2 separate regions of the Homo sapiens genome follow, and region 2 is linked to region 1. The links come from fine-mapping of genetic effects on gene expression. Tissue or cell type: whole blood. Region 1 holds a variant in brackets; the other region holds the start of a gene. All regions are shown on one strand. Distances are from middle to middle.

The links. PIP is the estimated chance that this variant, and not a neighbour inherited with it, causes the effect.
Region 2: DNAJC3 starts here. The variant in region 1 is fine-mapped to the expression of DNAJC3 in whole blood (INTERVAL, PIP 0.99).

Annotation. Positions count from the first base shown.
Region 1 is chr13:95,823,544-95,831,436 of GRCh38, reverse strand. All of the region lies in intron 38 of UGGT2 (UDP-glucose glycoprotein glucosyltransferase 2), which reads left to right. Among named protein-coding and RNA genes, the nearest start is that of DNAJC3, 150 kb to the right of the region's middle. The variant G/A (reference allele first, on the strand shown) is at 3,420.
Region 2 is chr13:95,674,655-95,681,213 of GRCh38, reverse strand. It overlaps DNAJC3 (DnaJ heat shock protein family (Hsp40) member C3), which reads right to left and starts at 4,075. Exons shown (of 12, transcript NM_006260.5): 1 at 3,877-4,075. The coding sequence starts at 3,958. It overlaps DNAJC3-DT (DNAJC3 divergent transcript), which reads left to right and starts at 4,289. Exons shown (of 2, transcript NR_132117.1): 1 at 4,289-5,362; 2 at 6,546-6,559. RefSeq lists silencers at 3,695-3,784, 4,015-4,254 and enhancers at 3,895-3,944, 3,291-4,137, 4,775-4,874, 4,138-4,985.

The sequences.
Region 1 (7,893 bases):
GCAGCATATTTTAAGTTAAAAAATAGGTTATAGAGCAATATTTATAATTGATCTCGTTTCCATTAAAGAAAAATCATAGGTCTGTATGTATGTGTTTGTGTATAGATATGTATATAAGTAAGGGAGAGAAGTTTTACAAAAGAGATTTTTTTTTATTATTATTATACTTTAAGTTCTAGGGTATATGTGCACAATGTGCAGGTTTGTTACATATGTATACATGTGCCATGTTGGTGTGCTGCACCCACTAACTCGTCATTTACATTGGATATGTCACCTAATGCTATCCCACCCCCTACCCCCACCCCACAACAAGCCCCAGTGTATGGTGTTCCCCACCCTGTGTCCAGGTGTTCTCATTGTTCATTTCCCACCTATGAGTGAGGACAGGCGGTGTTTGGTTTTCTGTCCTTGTGATAGTTTGATGAGAATGATGGTTTCCAGCTTCATCCATGTCCCTACAAAGGACATGAACTCATCCTTTTTTAAGGCTGCATAGTATTCCGTGGTGTATATGTGCCACATTTTCTTAATCCAGTCTATCATTTTTGGACATTTGGGTTGGTTCCAAGTCTTTGCTATTGTGAATAGTGCCGCAATAAACATATGTGTGCATGTGTCTTTATAGCAGCATGATTTATAATCCTTTGGGTATATACCCAGTAATGGGATGGCTGGGTCAAATGGTATTTCTAGTTTTAGATCCTTGAGGAATCGCCACACTGACTTCCACAATGGTTGAACTAGTTTACAGCCTTACCATACTGTAAAAGTGTTCCTATTTCTCCACATCCTCTCCAGCATCTGTTGTTTCCTGACTTTTTAATGATTGCCATTCTAACTGGTGTGAGACAGTATCTCATTGTGGTTTTGATTTGCATTTCTCTAATGACCAGTGATGATGAGCATCTTTTCATGTGTCTGTTGGCTGCATAAATATCGTTTTTTGTGAAGTGTCTTCATATCCTTCACCCACTTTTTGATGGGGTTGTTTGATTTTTTCTTGTAAATTTGTTTAAGTTCATTGTAGATTCTGGATATTAGCCCTTTGTCAGATGGGTAGATTGCAAAAATTTTCTCCCATTCTGTAGGTTGCCTGCTCACTCTGACGATAGTTTCTTTTGCTGTGCAGAAGCGCTTTAGTTTAGTTAGTTCCCATTTCTCAATTCTTGCTTTTGTTGCCATTGCTTTTGGTGTTTTAGTCATGAAGTCCTTGCCCATGCCTGTGTCCTCAATGGTATTGCCTAGGTTTTCTTCTACAGTTTTTATGGTTTTAGGTCTAACATTTAAGTCTTTAATCCATCTTGAATTAATTTTTCTATAAGATGTAAGGAAGGGATCCAGTTTCAGCTTTCTACATATGACTAGCCAGTTTTCCCAGCACCATTTATTAAATAAGGAATCCTTTCCCCATTTCTTGTTTTTGTCAGGTTTGTCAAAGATCAGATGGTTGTAGATGTGTGGTATTATTTCTGAGGGCTCTGTTCTGTTCCATTGGTCTATACCTCTGTTTTGGTACCAGTACCATGCTGTTTTGGTTACTGTAGCCTTGTAGTGTAGTTTAAAGTCAGGTAGCATGATGCCTCCAGCTTTGTTCATTTGGCTTAGGATTGTCTTGGCAATGCAGGCTGTTTTTTGGTTCCATATGAACTTTAAAGTAGTTTTTTCCACTGAATCTATGAATTACCTTGGGCAGTGTGGCCATTTTCACAATACTGATTCTTCCTGTCCATGAGCATGGAATGTTCTTCCATTTGTTTGTGTCCTCTTTTATTCCTTTGAGCAGTGGTTTGTAGTTCTCTTTGAAGAGGTCCTTCACATCCTTTGTAAGTTGGATTCCTAGGTACTTTATTCTCTTTGTAGCAATTCTGAATGGGAGTTCACTCATGATTTGGCTCTCTCTTTGTCTGTTAATGGTGTATAGGAATGCTTGTGATTTCTGCACATTGATTTTGTATCCAGAGACTTTGCTGAAGTTGCTTATCAGCTTAAGGAGATTTGGGGTTGAGACGATGGGGTTTTCTAAATATACAATCATGTCATCTGCAAACAGGGACAATTTGACTTCCTCTTTTCCTAATTGAATACCCTTTATTTCTTTCTCCTGCCTGATTGCCCTGGCCAGAACTTCCAACACTATGTTGAATAGGAGTGGCGAGAGAGGGCATCCCTGTCTTGTGCCAGTTTTCAAAGGGAATGCTTCCAGTTTTTGCCCATTCAGTATGATACTGGCTGTGGGTTTGTCATAAATCGCTCTTATTATTTTGAGATACGTCCCATCAATACCTAATTTATTGAGAGTTTTTAGCATGAAGGGCTGTTGAATTTTGTCAAAGACCTTTTCGGCATCTGTTGACACAATCATGTGGTTTTTGTCTTTGGTTCTGTTTATATGCTGGATTACGTTTATTGATTTGTGTATGTTGAACCAGCCTTGCATTCCAGGGATGAAACCCACTTGATCATGGTGGATAAGCTTTTTGATGTGCTTCTGGGTTTGGTTTGCCAGTATTTTATTGAAGATTTTTGCATTGATGTTCATCAGGGATATTGGTCTAAAATTATCTTTTGTTGTTGTGACTCTCCCAGTCTTTGGTATCAGGATGATGCTGTCCTCATAAATTGAGTTAGGGAGGATTCCCTCTTTTTCTATTAATTGGAATAGTTTCAGAAGGAATGGAACCAGCTTCTCTTTGCACCTCTGGTAGAATAGGACTGTGAATCCGTCTGGTCCTGGAGTTTTTTTTGGTTGGTAGGCTCTTAATTATTGCCTCAATTTCAGAGTCTGTTCTTGGTCTATTGAGGGATTCAACTTCTTCCTGGTTTAGTCTTGGGAGGGTGCATGTATCCAGGAATTTATCCATTTCTTCTAGATTTTCTAGTTTATTTGCGTAGAGTTGTCTATAATACTCTCTGATGGTAGTTTGTATTTCTGTGGGATCAGTGGTGATATCCCCTTTATCATTTTTTATTGCATCTATTTGATTCTTCTCTCCTTTCTTCATTAGCCTTGCTAGCGGTCTGTCAATTTTGTTGATCTTTTCAAAAAACCAGCTCCTGAATTCATTGATTTTTTGAAGGGTTTTTTGTGTCTCTGTCTCCTTCAGTTGTGCTCTGATCTTAGTTATTTCTTGTCTTTTGCTAGCTTTTGGATGCGTTTGCTCTTGCTTAGCTTGTTCTTTTCATTGTGATGTTAGGGTATCAATTTTAGATCTTTCCTGCTTTCTCTTGTGGGCATTTAGTGCTATAAATTTCCCTCTACACACTGCTTTAAGTGTGTCCCAGAGATTCTGATATGTCCAGGTTGCAGCAGAGAGAGAGGTTTAATCATAGGGCTGCCAAATGAGGAAACAGAATGAAAACTCAAGTCTGTGTCCCTGAGCAGTTTGTGACTAGTGATTTTTAAGGGTTTTGGAGGG[G/A]GCCAGAGTATGGAGAGCATTGATTGGTCGAAGAGTGCAAGGTGAAGTCGTGGTATAGGGAGATGAAGAAACTATATTCTCATGCTGAATTGGTTACTTTGTGGGGATCTTCAAACTGGTTGGTGTCAGCTGTTCTGCTGGAACTCACGATCTGCTTAGGCAATTCTTAAAAGCCTTATGATTCTGATGTCAGAAATCCCATCCACAAGAACAATGGGGATGCAAATGGTCAGTATCTAGTGCTAAGTAACTTTCAGTTACAAGGAAGTGGGTCAAAGTGCTGCCTGACTAATAGTTAACCATACTTCTGTCCAGAATTCTTGTTTAACTCTATAAGGATGGCTTGAGATATAGTATATCTTTTATAATTTACATTTCTCTTTTTCATTATATTAGTTTGCTAGGGCTGCTATAACACAGTTCCACAAACTGGCTGGCTTAAACTGGACATTTATTGTCTCACAGTTCTGGAAGCTGAAAGTCCAAGATGAAGGTGTCCACAGGGTTGATACCTTCTGAGGGCTGCGAGGAAAGAATTTAACACAGACGTCTCTCCTTGGTTTGTAAATGGCTTTCTTTTCCTTATGTGTCTTCACATTGTCTTCACATTCTCTGTCCTTGTTCAGTTAGGACACCTGTCATATTGGATTAGGGTCTACGCTTATGACCTTATTTTAACTTGATTTCCTCTGTAAAGATCCTGCCTCCAAATAAGGATACATTTGGAGATACCAGAAGTTAGAATTCTTGTAAATTTTGTGGGGACCAAAATTCATGTATTTTTGAAATATGAATTAAACCCATAACATGGGTGGAGTTAAGAATCTTGTCATATATTTAAAGGCCATTAGTATTTCTTCCGCTGTTCTTGTCATTTGCCTGTTTTTTTCTAGAGGATTGTTGCCTGACACTGGAAGAAATTAATTTCTGTTCCACACATTTGTATTGCCATCTTTATCATATATTAAATTCCAATATTAGGATGTCTTGTTTGGCCCTTTTTATTCCGTTCCATTGGTCTCTGTCTATACATGTGCCAAGTACATACCACTTTAATTATTAAGGACTTATATTATGTTTTAATATCAAGTAAGGCTAGCCTTTCCTTATTACTCTTCTTTTTTGTTGTTTTTCTGTGTATTCTTGTTTTTTTTCCATACAAGCCTTAGAATCAACTTAGTTTCAGAAAATTTTCTGTGTTTTTCTTGGGGGGCTGTGTGGGATGGTCAGAGAAAGGATTACATTAATTAGTTGGCTTGAGAGAATTGACATCTTCATGGAAACTACTGTCTCAGAATACATTGTCTTTCTATATATTCAAGTCCAGTTTTCCTCAAGAATCATAACATTTTAATCATATAGCTTATATATATATATAGTTTAAGCTTTTCTTTGCTACTGTTATAAATGGAATTTTTCTCTTGAAGAATATCTTCTTACTGGTGGTTGCTTGTACATAAAGACTACTTTCTATACATGGATCTTTATTTCCCATGATCATACTGAATTTTTATATTGGTTGTAGTAATGTTTCAGCTTATTCTCTTGGGTTTTTCCAGGAATACCCACATCTTATCTCCAAATAAAGATGGTTTTCCCTTTTCCTTTCTGATCATTGTACATCACACTGTTTTTGTTTGTTTGTTTGTTTATTTTACTTGCTTTGACTTATACATCTAATACGGTGTTAAATAATAAAGTGGTGGTAGTAGGCCTTTTTCCTTACTGTGGTTGACCAACTTCTATGTTTCCCCGTTAAGATAATAGTGTTGGACTGAAGAAGAATATTTTTATCATCTTGAGGAAATAACCATTGATTCCTATTTTAATATTTTTATCAAAGATGGGTTGAATTGGTTGCATTTTATCAACTTATTCAACAGAAATAGAGGTGACACATAATTTTTCAACTTATAGATTATAAACTACAACATTATTTGTAGTTTATTATAAATTATAATCTATAACTATATTAATATATTTCCTAATATCGAATCATTTTTTCTAATATTGAAGCATCCTTGTATTCCTAGAATAAACTCCACTTGGCCCTACAGGTTGGCTGGACACAGAAGAGCAGTAGCAATCACTGTAGTCTGGTTCTCAGAGACTCCTACTCCTAGGAGAAGGGGAAGAGCACCACATCAAGGGAGCAACCTGTGGGACAAAAGAATTCAGACAACAGGCCTTGAGTCCCAGATCTTTCTGCTGGTGGGAGTTTCTTTCAGCAGAGACATAATTGCAGTGCTAGGCTCAGCAGGAAAAAGTCTGGAGCTGTACCCCAACATTCAGGCAGACTTGGTGCTCTTGGAGGGTCTTGGAGAAGACCTTTCCCACCTTGTCCACCACTGCAGACACAGCTGGGGCTTCTCCCACAGGAGCTCAGTGTGGCTGAACCTATAGACAGCCTTCCTGGAACACTTCAGGGTGACTGCATTGCCGCAGGAGAGGTATCCTCCAGGTTCAGGCTTGCACAAGAGGCAGTCACAATTCCTCTCTCCTTAGAACATCAACATGCCTACAGATAAAAATACCTGAATAGCTGGACCACTGGGATAAGAGTGAGTCTGGGAGTTGGATAGCTTTCTTGCTTGGCCTGGCAAGGAAGCTGAGGTGGCTCTCACTCTTCCCCTTGTTAAGACATCAGTGCATCTAATTGAGAGCTCCCTCAGCCACCTTCATCAAGGCTGGTACCTCTGTCCACCATTGGATATTACATTTACCACCTGCTTTAGCTACAACAGGTTCCTACCCAGGGATACCACTCCTATCCTGAAGCCTGAACCATCAACTCAGTAAATAAAATACTGGGGAGAAATTAAATTAAAAAGTGCACACCACAGGGGAATGAGGTAAGCTTCAAGAGACCTCTGCCATTACAATTCCATAGGAGATAGCAAACTTGCCAACACACTGAGTACATGACTATTACAACCACATCTGAGGAAGCCATCATAGAAAGACTCTCCACAACCAAGGAATTCATAGAGTCTTCACTCCCAAAAGCACAAATAACCAAATTAAGCTATAATAAACATTAAACTCACATTCTTAAGGGGGAAAGAAGAAATTAAAAATGCTGTCAAATAAAAAATAAAGAACAATTAGAAGAAATAGTATACCCAAATGAGAAGGAACCAGAAAAGTAATTCTGGTAATATGACAAAACAGTGTTCTTTAACACCCCCAAAAAAGATCACACGGTCTCTCCAGCAGTGGATCCAAACCAAGATGTAATCTTTGAAATACCAGATAAAGAATTTAGAAGATTATTACACTACTCAAGGAGATACCACAGAAAGGTGAAAACCAACATAATTTTTTTAAAATTCAGGATATGAATGAAAAATTTTCTAGAGAGATATAAAGAAAAATCAATCAGAACTCTGGAAATGAAAGACATGCTTAGGGAACTATAAAATGCCATGGAAAGGTTCAACAATAGACTACAACATGTAGACAAAAGAATTTTAGAGCTCAAAGATAGGCTTTTGATTAATCCAATAAGACAAAGATAAAAAGGAATCAAAAGAAATGAAGAAAGTCTTTAAGAAATATGGGATTATGTAAAACATCCAAACCTAAGAATAATTGGTGTTCCTGAGGAAGAAGAGAAGGCTAGAAGTTTGCAAAACTTATTTGAGGGAATAATTGAGGAAAACATCCCTGGCCTTGCTAGAGATTTAGATATCCAAATACAAGAAGCTCAAAGAACTCCTCGGAAATTTCATTATGAAAAGATCATCACCGAAGCACACAGTTGTCAGGTATCTAAAATCAACTAGAAGGAAAGAATTCTAAGAGCTGTGAGACAAAAGCATCAAATAATCTGTAAGAGAAAACCTATCCGACTAACAGCAGACTTCTCAGCAGAAACCTTATAAGCTAGAAGGGAAATGGGGTCCTATCTTTAGCCTCCTTAAACAGAATAACTGTTAGTCAAGAATTTTGTATCCAGCAAAATGAATAAATCCAGTAAAACTAAAACCTTTCATAAACGAAAGAGAAATGAAGTCATTTTCAGAGAAACACATGCTCAGGGAATTTGCTACTACCAAACCAGCACTATAGGAAATGCTAAAAGAAGTTCTAAATCCTGAAACAAAAGTTCAACATGCACTAAAATAGAACTTCTTAAAAGCAAAAAATAAAAAATAAAAAACTCACAGAGCCTGTAAAACTAACACAACAACAACAGTTTATCTAGGTAACAACTAATATTGATGAATAGAACATTACCCCATATCTCTATTAACATTGAATGTAAATGGCCTAAATGCTCCAATTAAAAGATATAGAATGGCAGAATGAATTTAAAAATCACAATCCAAATATCTGCTTTCTTCAGGAGACTTAACTAACATATAAGAATTCACATAAATTCAAGGTAAAGGGATGGAAAAGATAAGCTACACAAATGAAAACCAAAGCAAGCAGGCGTAGCTATTCTTATATCAGACAAAACAGACTTTAA
Region 2 (6,559 bases), 150 kb after region 1:
TTACAGGGGCCAGAAAATAAATGGGCATTTGCAGTACACTAACTACAATAATGGACCACTCAGTCTAAAGCGGGAAAGGAGAAAAAGAGGACGTGAATGCTTCACAAATGCATGTCTTAAACCCTAAGTGGTCTGTAAACTCAAAAGCAAAAGCCATGAGTTCTATGCTACGTATATATACCTCACCAAAGAGCAATATAGTTAGTAAAAGCCTTTGCTGACTGATTAAATGAGTCTTCTCCATATTCCAGAACTCCAAATGATACAAACTCATCAGATTTAATTTTTTTAAGTAGCTTTCTAAAGATATGGAAAGAAAAATAAATCTATGGTTGAAATGTTTGCGTTCTGAAGAGCAGGTGAATGGGTTCCCATGATACTTCCATATAAACAAAGATTAACTGCAGGACACTAATCAAAAGAGACCACAGCAGTAGAAATTAAACTTAACAACAATTAATTAACTTCATATGGGAAAATAAAACCTAATTACTACAGTGCATCCCCTCCCAGAACAACTTCCCCTACCTCACAGAATGAAAACCACTGCATTTCCAGGCAGTTTCTCAGCAAATACTAACTATGTCAAGAGAACTGGAACTTTGATACTACTGCTAACTACAGCCTATCTTATTAAAGAATTTAAAATAATTCTAGAAAATATGTGACCACCTTTTATGATACTTAATTTATTTAAATTACTTAAAGTCACTCATTTTTGCTACTTTATTCTTTCCCTATTTAGATAATGTCAAGAAAATCCTAGAAAAGACAAAACATACCTTTAATAGGTTAGGTTCAAATAAAACTTATCATGGTTCAAATAAAACTTATCACAATATTTTATACGTATAGATTTTCAACTATATATTTTCAACTATTCTTTTCCCCATGGCCAAAATATATGGTTTAATCAGCTCAATGAAATAAAGAAAAATTGGGTCCAGATAGCATGTTAAGGAAGAAAAAGAGATAAAACTATGATAAGAGAAAAAAGGTTTCGTTCCCAGGCTGTGTTGCTACTCAAGTCACCAAGAGGACAAACCATTAGCAAAGAAATGAAATAACTTCCTTATCTGTAACATGAGAATACTAAAGCAGATACTACTAAAGTTTTCTTTCTATTCCAAAAATTCGATCTCATCTAGTGCTTTAGACTTCACTCTTTCAAACGCCTTTGAGAAGGGAGGGTGCCAAAAGACTCAAACTTTCAATTCATGATATATACTTTCTGTCTCTGGATGACAATTAACAGAAAAATCTAGAAGAAAACAAAGGCAAATATTTCAAAATCAGAAAAACACTAGGTTATCTCTTCCCCATCCTGTGCCACTCTTAGTTCCACATTCACTTCTCTCATAACCATTCTCCTTCATTTCTTTTTTTAAAAGTGAATTGTATTGTATATATTTGATGTTTACAACATAGTATTATGAGATATACACACATAAAATGGTTACAATAGTGAAGCAGATTAATAAGAGTGAAGCAGATTAATATATCTATCATCTCACATAATTACTTTTTGTGTGACAAGAGCAGCTAAAACCTACCTATTTAACAAAAATCCTTAATACAACACAATTTTATTAAGCCTCAGGCCTAGCAGTAGCACCATTTGCCTTTCAGAGAACTATGAGATTAGTGAATCCAGACACAATTTATTTGGGAAAACAGGGGCTAACGGTTTGCTAATTCAAGTCAGAGTTCTTACCTTTATATCCCTATCACCAAATCCAGTGTCAAATACATAGCAGACACCTAATTTAACTCCTCTATATAATTTATTACACCAGTGGTTCTCAAGTGTGGTCATCCAGGGTCTTTCTAGAAACGCAAAATTTCAGGTCCCATCAAGACCTAATGAATCAAACTCTGTAAGTGGGGTACAGCACTCTGTTTTAAAAAGCCCTCCATGTGCGATTCTGATGCACACTCAAGTTTGAGAACCACTGTATTAAACCTCCCAGGAAATAACCTTCTTGTTAATTACAAAAAAAAAAAAAAAAAAAAAGTGCTGATTTTTTTTCTCAGCTGCCATCACTTAAAAGTGCTTGGACTCACATGATGTTGTCAACTACTTAACTTCTGTCTCCAGCGTGCACACAAAATGAACTTTAGTAAAACCTTTGGAGCCTCAGTTCCCTGGTCTGTAAAGTAGGAATGAATACCACACGCTTTCGTGAATAAGATATGGCTTACAGAAAGGCTCCTTTCTTTCCTTTTTCTGTTACCTGTACTAAGTCCCTGCTATTTTACACAGACAATGGTCCTAAAGAAGACACTCTGGCACTCCTCTGAGAAATGTCACCAGTGCCTCCTACACAGAAAAGCTCTCAAATGTGGTTTTCTTATGGAAAATACCACAGGAGGGAAATGAAGAGTTAAGAGTCCTTACAGACTCATATACAGAACAGCAATTCTAAAAAGTAGTGGGAAAAGCAATCATTCAAAATTGTGCATCTCTGTAACTTAAAAAAAAAAATCACCATTAAACAGAACATAGGCAACTTTCTCTTAAGTGTCCAAAATAAATTATTAATGATAACTGGAGATAAATACTACAGATGAGGGATGGTGGGGTGCGGGGGCAGGAGGAATGAAGCTTTTGAAAATGCAAAAGAACTAGAATATATGACCCATATTAAAGTGGTACAGACCTTCAAATTCCAATCCCCTAGATTTTTCTGGGGGCAGCCTCACTGTCAAATTCTTTGTCCCAATGTTGCCACACTACGTGTTCTGATTTGGGGTTCAAAAAATATGGTTACCAGGGGAAGCAAAAGCAAAAGCCCATTGCTATGGGTGACACCTAAAAACTGGGGAGTACTACTTTAAAAAAAAAAGTTGAGAACTTTCAGAAGAATTCACTATAAACAATTCCCAATTTTTAGTTCCTCGCTCCCTTTGAATGGAATACTCAAAGGTTTAATTTGACCTCCTTGACAACTAGCCCTTTTTATGGGGATGAAAATAGATCAGTGCATGTGATGTGTCATTACACTCGAATATTTCGCACAGTAACCGCGCCAGAAGCATTCGTTAAATCGGCACTATCAACTTTAATTCTTACTCCTCCCCGCTGCCATCTAAGATAGGACAGCCCTCTATTTTCGCTATTCTGGAGTAGCCAACATTCCAGTCTGCAGGACTGAAGTGAAATTTAATCGTTCGTATCTTTTTAAGGGAACCTTTTTACAGCGAACTTGGAAAAGTAATGCCAGCCATACGTTGAATGACACCATGTTGGGAGTTGTAAAACCACAAACTCAGTGCCTGGCCGTCCGGGAGATGGAATTCCAACAGCGGCTCCTCATTGCACCAAACTAACAATTTCTCTACACGACAGTGCATCTTAATGGGGATGGTTACACACTTTTTAAATAGTCAACACTGTCCCCTCCAACTCCCAGCCGGACATGACACTCCTTCCCCACCCAAGAACTCCAGAGCGAAGGAAGTCTTTTGGCCACCTTAGTGCCTCCTCCCAGCCAGCACCAATGACTGACAGTGTCCCCAGGCGCCCAGCGAGGGTCCCAAGCGAGGCCAGGACCCAAAGGCTGCCCAAGTCTCCGCGTCCCAGGACTTCCTGAAGTCGTAGCCCGGTGCCCCCGCACCCCGCCTCCTCCGACTCCTGCGGCCCGGTTCCTTAGTCCAAACCCGCTGTCCCGGCCCCGCGGCCCGCCAGTCCCCTCGATTCTTCCCCAGACAAACCCGGAACCGGGCGCGGGCTCAGGCCCAAGCCAGGCCGCGGGCTCCCCCAGCGCTCGCCCCACCTCCCGAGCCGCTCCGGGACAGGCGCCCGGGCGCAGACGGGAAAGCGCGGGGGGCCTGGTCCGGGAGCCCACTTCCTGGCCGGGGCAGGGCAGGACTCACCTTCGTACTGCAGATCCACCAGGACTAGCAGGAAGGGGAATACCGAGCCCAGCCGGCTGGTCACGGAGCCGGGGGCCACCATGTCCGAGGGCTCGCGAGTGAAGAGGAGGAAAGGTGTGTGGCCCACCAGCACGCGCCGGCGCTCCGGCAGCAGCTGCGCCCGCCCGCCGTCGGCTCTCGCTCAGGCCTCAGTGGCTCTGGAGCCCAGCAGAGGAAGGCAGCGGTGGGCGGGGCCCGGGCGACGCTACGCCCCAGAGCGCCGCCGCCATCCAATCGCCTTCTTTCTGGCGGCTTTCCTCCCGGGCTCGCCGGGGTCGTGGTTCGCGCTGATAGGCTGCGGAGGCCGCCGCCCCGCCCCGTCCCTGATAGGATAACGTGGAAGCACGAGACGAGGCTGCGCCCGCCGGTCGCAGAGCTGTCAGCAAGCTCCAAACCGCGGCTGCCGCCCGGAGGGAAGCAGACGGGGAGTCGGTGGCGGCCGCCGAGTCCGCATGCGCAGGCTGCAAAGGCCCTTTTGGGCCGGTCCCGCCGCGCTAGGTTGGCGAGTGGGACTATTTGATCCTTTCCAGGTTCGCCAGCGTGGTGTTACGAGAGGAAAGCGCAGCCGCAGCGTACGAATGGGAAGGCCAAACACGGTCCCGGGGAGTCTGAGGGAAGCTGCAGGGCGCCTGGAATTGGGGTCTCGAGTGAGCCGGTAAAAACCGCCTCCCGCTGAGCGTCCCGGAACAAATACTGTCTGAACTGAGCCGTAAGCAAGAAACGGTCAGGAGAAGCTGGGGCGATCTGATGATTAGAACATTTCAGGGACTACCAGAGAGAAGTGCGTAATTGCTCTAAGGCAGGTAGGTAATTGGCCTGGAAACTTGGGAACGCCCCGCCCCCCACCCCGACTTTCAGCAAACCACCGTGCCCAGGAAAAAGAGCGATTGTGGAAGACCCTGTGAAGAAGAGACCAGGAAGGCACTGTGGCTTAAGAGAGCAAGGCGTTCCTGAATGCAGCCAACATCAACTGGTAAACAAAAAACTGTGAGAACGGATCCTGAATCTTGCGCTTACCAGGGGAAATTCAGGAGAGATATGAACCTGAGCAAGATGAGGTTGAAGTTACTCAATGCGGCATTAAGCCTGTTCACGGCCACTTCCTCCGGCGTCACCAACACACACACTGTACACCAGCAGTATTTTTACACGGGGTATGTGTGTTAAGTACTATCAGGTGGATAATTATTACTTCACCTGTATTTGCTGCCTTGATACCATTAGAGAAACTCATGAATTATAAATAGCATAGTGAATTTGTGATTCCCTGAAGATATACTAAGGTGGACTTTTAAAAAGGCTTCTATTCCAAAGGGAACTAATATGGAGGAAATGGTTTCGAGAAAGAAAAAAGAAAAAACGGAGTCCTTGATTAGTTGTGGGGAAGGCAACATAATGTAATGTGAAGAATAAAGGAGTCAGATCCAGGAAACCCCATAACTATTATGTAAGTTATCTTCATCTGTAAAGTGGTTAGGATCCTGATAGTCTCAAAGGTTTGTTTTGAGGTTTCATGAAGCAGATAAATATTCTTGTAAATTGTAGAATGTTATACCAGTGTTACTCATTATTCTAACAAGAGCAGAGTAGTGAAGAGAGGCTCCTTCAGAAATTCCTTGGGATTTTTTTTTTTTTGGCTTCTGTTTTTTTATATCACAAGGTAGTGTCTCTGAAAAATGGTAGATGATTTCAATGTCCACAAATATGCAGGTGTAGACATTCAATTGAGGTACTGTACCCAAGGCAGCCAGCAAAATGCTGAACATAGAAAATAACTTTGTAAACAAAATGCAATATTTCTAGACAGTGAGTTATCACCAGTGTGCTGCCTATGACCCTGGCCTTAAGGAAAAAGTAGCAGAGCTGAAGAAGTTCTAAGGATGGAAATTAAAAATTATTAAGGAGATAATAGACTTCGTGTTATAGGAAATAAAAATAGCAAGGGTCTTCAATGGTGAGTGATTTTGAGATTAATTACATAACTATGAATTCTGTAATATTAGAACTAAGCTTTACAAAGCATTCCTTAAAAAAAGATAATTTTACAACAAAGGTAACATTAGACAGAAAAAAATGTACAAAACTAAAATTAAGTGATTAATGCTTGGGAATGTTTCCTCCAATGTTCATCTAGTCATGGTTTTCACGAATCACTCTTGCCAATAAAACCGAAAATCAAAGTAATCTAGTGAGTGTAAGAAAAGTTACTGTAAATATGTTTGCATTCGTCAGACTCTATGGAGTCTTTTTGAAGTTAAACATTAAATCTCCACTGTAATTCATACTGTTAATTATAGTAGCAAAAGACTTAAAAAACAATGGTAGCATATTTATGATATATCCAAAATTAAGAGTATTATGCAATTTTTATTAGGTTGATCTATGTTTATTGACTAGGAAAAACAATGTTGGTAGAGAGGAGTGAACAGATCTAGAACATATTTTGTAGGTAAAGGGAATAAGATTTGTTTAGGAATTAACTATGAGGAGAAATAAATGTTCAGAAACAAGTAGAGCACTTATAAACACCTTTTTGTGCCAAATTAAGAACAAAAAAGTCAGCATTAAGTTAATGCCACCATATACATCCTTCCACATTTATGTTTACAAACTTGTGCTTTTATTTCTAGGAAACATTTCTAGG